Linked DNA regions of Homo sapiens. The protein of the gene in region 1 purifies or fractionates together with the protein of each later gene. This does not show direct contact. Each region holds a gene or a part of one and is shown on either strand. Other genes may lie near its edges.

What was found.
Region 2: the proteins of LRTM1 (region 1) and GNPDA2 purify together in Homo sapiens (affinity purification with mass spectrometry; one large-scale study listed by BioGRID and IntAct). This does not show direct contact.

What each region holds. Positions count from the first base shown.
Region 1 is NC_000003.12:54,918,059-54,921,884, forward strand, and holds the end of LRTM1 (leucine-rich repeat and transmembrane domain-containing protein 1 isoform 1 precursor), read right to left. Parts: intron 835-3,826; coding exon 401-834; 3' UTR 173-400; downstream 1-172.
Region 2 is NC_000004.12:44,719,835-44,723,660, forward strand, and holds part of GNPDA2 (glucosamine-6-phosphate deaminase 2), read right to left. Parts: intron 2,409-3,826; 5' UTR 2,374-2,408; coding exon 2,250-2,373; intron 1-2,249. UniProt on the Homo sapiens protein: Catalyzes the reversible conversion of alpha-D-glucosamine 6-phosphate (GlcN-6P) into beta-D-fructose 6-phosphate (Fru-6P) and ammonium ion, a regulatory reaction step in de novo uridine diphosphate-N-acetyl-alpha-D-glucosamine (UDP-GlcNAc) biosynthesis via hexosamine pathway.

The DNA.
Region 1 (3,826 bases):
TTTCCAGTGGACCATAAAGCTCCCAGGAATGCTGATTGGCATGTGTGTTTGAATTTCTGGTGCTTTGTAAAAGGAACTTAATCCACAGAAGAGTACCTGGAAGAGATGGCATCTTCCCTTTCTCTGTGTGTGTCTTACCCCCACATAGAATCGTCGTAATAACTTCCCAGGCCCAGAGCACAAGTATCATCTTTATTTTACCTATAGTATTTTAAAAATCGCAACATAAATTCCTCCCCAGAAATATTTTTTACAGACACATCTTTTTTTTTTCTTTTTTTTTTTTTTTTTTTTTTTGTCTTTTGGCAAAAGCAAAATCAGACTAACAGGAAACACATCAGCCCTACTCAGACACTATCTTCTGGCCTGCAATGACCAATCCTATTTGAGACAAAAGCTCTCAGGCTGGTGAGCTGTCAAATCGCTCTTTTTCTTCCACCTTCCCAGGATCATTGGTTTGAGCCAAGGGTCCCCCATGGTACTGGGCTGTGATTGCCGCATAGGTGCAGCCATAGATGGCAGCTGCCAACATCATGAGACACACAATCCCACACACAACGCCAGTGATGATGACAGTGGCAATGGCATGACGCAGGTTGGCCGGCCTTGGCTTGGGTTTGAGCTCGCACTCCAAGAGTTCTCGCTCCCCCGCGTTGTGGTTCTCAGGAGGCCTCAGGACCACACCGTGGGCAGAGCCGGGCCACTGAGCCTGCGAGGACACTGGATCAGGAGCAGGAAGAGGGCAGGGCTGGTACAGCTCATGAGGGATCCTAAGGAGGTCCTTTCCCTTCCAGGTGTCTGGTGATTCACAGATGATGCCGTCTGTTAGTCCCCCTTTAAAAAACAAAAGCAAAGAACAATAACAAAGCCTTGATACAACAGAGTTCCAAAATCCTCTGCCTGCAAAAACTTAGGCAGATGGAATTTATGAAGTACCTTTTTTTTTTTTAAATCCTGGAGTCAAAGAATTTAACAACCATATTTTATGATTTTAGGATTCCTAAATTGGCTAAATACTAAAAATGCCACACACTAAATTGGCAATTACTTATGACCAAGAATTCATTAGAAGCCCAGTAACCTTCATGTTCTCTAAATGCTCAGAGAAAACAATGCAAAAGCTGACAAGAAGGCACGCTGGGGGCCGATGGTGAGGGCACAGCTGCCCACTGCATTCGTGCCACGCATGGTCCTAGTGAGCCCCACAGACAAGAAAACTTTTGTACCAGATTCCCATTGAAAATCTAAGGAAAAAATAAAATAAATGTGCATTGTTGTGATGTTATGTGTTTATTACAAAGATCCTGTGTGTCTCAACACTGTTCAGTGATGCCAAATGGAGAGGTGGAATGGTCTTGGAGTGATCTGTGGATTTGACAATACTGGAAGTTTAGTTCCTGGAATTCGGTACCATGAATGTGTCTCCTCAGGCCTCAGAACATTTACGGCTTTGAATACTGAACTTTCCAGTGGGTTATTAAACCCAGTTTCCATTACCTGTAAGGTGATTGATATCCTCAGGTGTGTAGACTGCTGTTGGTCGGGGGAATTTGGGTGGTCGGTCATTCTTTCCTAGAGAGAGCCCTGAGCTAGCAGACTGAAGTCTAGTCTAGTGTGACCACTGATTTACTCTTTGACTTTGGGAAAATGTGCTTCGCTGACTTAATTTTCTGCCATGAAAACATGCTATTTGTATCCAACTTGATGGTTTACAAAGCACTGTTAGATAAGTCCTAATACTCCACTCTTGTAGGTAACTCTTGTCCAGACTCACAGAGGTCACGAGTGGATGAAACAACATCCAAACCCAGTTCTCCATGCTCAGTCCAAGTTTTTTCCACTACACTCGCTGCCTCGCCACATCCTCCTCTCAGGAGCGTTGTGAGGTCAGAGGAGTGGGCAGGATGGCCCTCGGCACTGTCTGCTAGGAAGCCTTTTGATTGGACAGAACTGCCCCATGACCTGCACCTTGGCCCTCTCAGGCTGCCATAAGCACCTCCCCTAGGCCAGCCGAAAAGACTGGCACTGCAGTTAGCAAAGTTAGATTGGAGGAGATTCTTAGTACACACAGTAAGTGAATTAGGAAATTATACCAGAAAGACATATGTAGAGGGCATCACTTCAACATTATTAGCACCCTCCATTGCATGGCACTTCAGAGTTTTAGGAATGCTTTCACATTTACTCTCTCTAAGCTTACTACAAGATAAGTCATAAGTGGCCCTGTAAGTAGATAGGGCCTATCTTGCAGTGCAAGGATTATCAGGTGGCCCCAACACACCAGGGTGAGTGGCAGTGGCAAAATTCAACCCATGTCCTTTTTGTTGCCACTGCTTAAAACTGAATCACCCACCACCAGAGTGTCTTGGGTTCCTCCTGGCTTCTCTAGCAATCCTTTGAGGAAACAGTCCTCACCCTAAAGCAGAAAGATAAAAGGGGAATTTCTTCCTTTTTTGAGCCACTGATTTTCCTGAGGCCAGAGGTTCAGAGCAGCTGCTCCAGATGAGTTCAAAGTGCCATTGAGATTAAGGATTCTTGCCTCATGGACCATTTCATTCCTCTGCACCTGACCATAGGAGCCTCTGCCAGGAAGTTGGTTGCAAGACAAAAAGGTCAGAGAGACAGAAATGAAGTGATGGGGCTTTGAGAAGTAGTCGTGATATTTAATCCAGCCAGAGAGCATGGAGACTTCTATCAGGGGAAGCAAGACCACCTGCCAGGGGGATGGACAGGTTCATCAGCTGACTTCCACCTTGACTAGGGTGGTTTACCCAATCACCCCAGACTTAAGAACTGTGTTTCTCCAGTTCCAGACTTTCTGTTGTTCGGTATTAAGGTGGGAGCCACAGCCTCTGGACCCAGAGCCAAGGAAATACCCAGACTGGAGCCTGGGACATAGCTGGAAGGCAGGGGCTATGGCTGCCAAATGCTCTGTGGTCTCCTGTGCAGGTGATCCTCAGCCGGGATGCAACTCCCACTCTCCACCATTTCATGGGCCATGACCCCCTCGTCAAATCTGCTGATTACAGCTTGAGGGTCCCACATCCTTCTAGATTAATGTAACTGACAATGCAAGAAGCTCCAGCTTGCCAAGCACTCATTGTTCTCTATCTGATCACTAGTAGCTCTTCACCTCTGTCTTGGGAGAAACTAGATTCAAATCTTGAGTCTGAACATTACGTAGCTGTGCAGCCGTGAAAAACTCCCTTGACCACGTTGTGCCTCTGCTTGCTCATCTGGAAAGTGGGAGATGAGGATAATTAAAATTCACTTCCCAAGATTGCTCTGAGGACTCAGTTGGATAAAATATATCAAGTATTTAGCATAATACCTAGCTCAGAGTAAATGTTTAGTGAAGTGAAGATGACTTGTTTACTAGTAAATAGAGAGAAATATTAATCATACAATCTGTGTGCATATTTCTTTGGAGGAGATATTATTATGTATTCACCAAAGCACATCTTTTTGCTCTTAGGCCAGCAGGAAGACTAAATTTTCCCACTTTTTGTGGTCTATTTGAGGCCATGTGATTGAATTCTGGACAATGGAATTCAATTAATTGAATTAATTAATGCCACCTCCAGGCCATAAAGCCCCCGTGTAATCCGCCATGCATTTTGTTCCCACTTGGGGATGACCTTAGAGGCCACGTGATAAACTTGGCGACATCACAAGCTCGAGGGGTCTTATGTCCCTAAATGACTGCATGGAATGCAGACCATGCCCCCATTTCCTTTGAACTCTGCCATGAATGAGCAACAGATTTTATTGCATATATAACTAAAGTCTGGGCTAGTCTGTTATGTCGGTTAGCCTGCCCTAATAC
Region 2 (3,826 bases), on another chromosome or scaffold:
TTTGTAATAGTCATTACTAACACAATTTAGCAAGTACCTACTATGATTTATATAAAACAAAGATTAAGACATTTTCTTTAAGAACTCACAATATAGGGATAAGCAAGTACAAAATAACCATAACACAGGAAAAACATTATAAATAATCTAAAAGAAGTCTGAGTATTGCAGAACATCAAATAAAAAAGACTACAATCTTGCGAGTTGGAAGAACAATAAAAGAAAATGGCATTTCAATTCAGTCTTGATTAAGGGATACACTTTCAACAAAGAGGAAACTAACTCAGAGCAGAGAAAAGATGGAGCGGGAGGTTCAACGATGACATCTGTCTACCATGTGGCTAGATGCTGCGCTAATGTTTTTATATATTACCTCACATAAAGCTCACAATCTTGAGAAACTGGCATTATCTTTCCCATTTTGAAGACAAAATAACTGGGTCAAAAAGATTAAGGAATTTGCCAAATGTCATATGGCTGTGAAACCAGGGATTCCAATCTAGATAGGTCTGGTGCCAGAGTTCATATAGATTCCATTAAATAACATGCTAGGAATATGAGTGAAAGCAAAGCAAAGCAAAGCAGCCAGCAACTTCAAGCCTATTCTTGAACTGCAAGCAGTCAAATATGCCTAGCCCAGTTCTGTGTAAGGAGATGGTGGGAATAAGTTTTGGGAAGCAGATCAGGTTCACAGCATGCAGGCCTTTAAATGTCAAGCTCATTAAGGTCACGTGAGTAAATATAAAATTGAACAGATATTGCCCAGAAATTGCGCTTGATAGGGAGATAATTACAATGCAGCCTGGTACAAGCAATTACCGACATGTATGTTCAAGTCTCAGAAGCAGTGGGGGAAGAGGACATAATTAACTTGTCGATGGTCAATGAAGGAGAGTAATGGAAAATTTCAACAAGGTTTTCCAGAGATCCTCACTTGGCAGGTATATTACTAGCAGTTATACTACCCAAAATAAAGCAAACGTTGTAGATCTAAATACACAAAAAGATGTTTAGCACTGCTGACATTTAAGACTAAGTCTTTCTGTCCCCACTCAAATTACTGTTTTTTTCTGCATCATAATTAACACAATGTTATTAACAGAGGTAGGCTGAGTGTAATGAAGGGTAACAGTATAGAAACTATACAGAAACCACGTTCAACCCCAAGGGGTCACATATCAGAACTGAGGGTGCTGGGGGTGTAGTACTGGTGTGTCCAGTGAAAAAAAAAAAACCCTTTTGCCATTCTCACCAAGATCTACTGCCCTGGACCAAAAGAGAAAAAGCAAAACAAAACAATCAACTTGAAGAGTACCATTCACGGAAATTACTCAAGTGGGAAAAAATTACAATTGTAGTTTTTATGTAATTACCATGTATGAGGGGAGGAGCTGGAGAAAACAGTCTGTTTAAATAAAACACACGGGAACTATAAATTTATAGACTACAGTATACAAGGGACTTACACATACACTATCTTAGCTGAATCTCAAAACAGCATCTTAAGTTATTATCCTTATCTTTCTTATAGGTAAGGAAACCAAGGCTCAGGGGTATAGAACAAATGCCTTGTAGTCAATAAGGAGCAACTTTAGTTCCAGGTCTAACACTCTGTGAAAATCATGGGTCAAATAAAGTGCCATAAGATCAAATGACACCACCTAGTCGTTTTTTAAGAGAATGCTTAATGGAAAACTGAATTCAATAAAATATGTAATTACTGTGATGAAGATATATTTTTCACTTGTAATACATCTATAATAGAAGAAGCAAATAGTAAAAGGCTAATAAACATTATATAATATATAATTTATAACTTCTATATTAATAAGGATTTATAAGGCAGGTGAAGTTAAATTAAGAGGCAACAGTACATACCTTAGGTACCTCTTAATGATTAATAAGAAAGCCAATCAACTAAAAACTGGTATGAATGGTAAAAGCAATGTTCCCCAAAACAAAGGACTACTAGAAAAATGTACAAAAAATATGAACAACACTTAAGTTACAATATTTCCTATTGCATTTTGGAGTGACAGGTGAGACTAAATTTTGGCACAAGAACTAGTAACACATTGTAGATAGTAGATTTTATATATATGCATTTTTCTGGCCTTTTATACTATGATGTTCAATTAGTGACATGCCAATAAATGAATGGGGAAAGTATCTTAAAAGAAACCCTTCAATTCCATCAGAATTAAATTTAGATAATATCAGAATATAAAATGGAAAAAGTAGTTAATTACCTGTTGGTAAACCCAGTGTAAAATATCTGTCCTGTCCAGGTTTGAACTGAATGATGCGATTACAGATGTATTTGGCTGCCCATTCACTAGCCAAGTCATAGTTATCAAGAATTACAAGCCTCATTACGGTGACGCACAGCTTCCAGAACAAGTTCAAACCTGAGAAAAGTCCATTGTAGAACACTTTACATAATAAACAGATAATTTAAATTCAGTAACTTTTTAAAAGATGTAAATAATAAATAGAGCACTGAAACAGAATATACTGATGATTTTTAAAAGTACATTACTGAAGAAGGACATGCACATATACAATCTGAATTTAAAAAATAGTAATAGCTGTTCTCTTTTGAGCAGACACTGAGTTTAAGGCAGTGGGCTAGGTCATTTAAGTATAGTTAGCCTTCTGTGGATTCCATATTCGAGGATTCAGCCAACCAAGAACTGAAAATATTTAGGGGAAAAAGATGTTTGCATCTGTATTAAACAGGTACAGACTTTTTTTTGTCATTATTCCCTAAACAATACAGTATAACAACTATTTACACAGTATTTACATTGTATTAGGTATTATAAGTAATCTAGAGATAAAGTATATGGGAGTATGGGTGCAGGTGATATGCAAGTACTATGTCATACAATATGAGGGACTTAAGCATCTGTGGATTTTGGTATCTGAAGGGGGATCCTAGAATCAATCCCCAACAGATACTAGGGACAAGTGTACATATTTTAATCCTTACAACCATCTTGTGAAGTAAATAAAATGCCCAGTTATAGATGAGGAAATGGACTCACATAATTTGACTAAGGTCACACAGGTAGTAAGCAACAAGGTCAGAATTCAAATTATAACAATAGGATCACACTAGACATGTTATTTTTAATAAGAGAATTCAACAGAAGAAAAAGAAAACAAAGTGAACTAAATAAACTGCTCATCTCTGGAGGAGAAATTTCTTGACAAAAAGCAATTTTAGTTCCTCAAAAATTATTCTAAAATTAAGAAAAATTATTATACGTATATTAAGAGATCGGAGTCACTTAAAAGCTACATAATTCCATTTTACACAATGTAGGTTGACTTATACCATGAAAGATGTGGAAATCAGCATTCTTACAGTAACTCACAGCTTCTGTTATCTGTAAGACATATTGTTTTCCTTTTTTTTAAAAAAATGGTATAAATTTAAGGGGTACAAATGCAATTTTGTTACATGGATATATTATTTAGTGACTAGGTCTGGGGTTTTGGTGTATCTATCACCTGAATAATGTACAATGATCCTAGCAATTTCTCATCATCTACCCACTCCTACTCCCCAACCCTTCTAAGCCTCTAATATCAGTCTACTTTCCATCACCACGTGTACACATTATTTAACTCCCACTTGTAAGTGAGAACATGTGGTATTTTTCTTTCTATTTGGGAGTTGTTTCACTTAAGATGATGGCCTCCAGTTACTGCAAAGGACATGATTTCATTTTCAATGGCTGAATTTCGCGGTGTATATATATACCACATTTTCTTTATCCAATCATTCACTGATGGACACTCAGGTTGATTTCTTATCTTT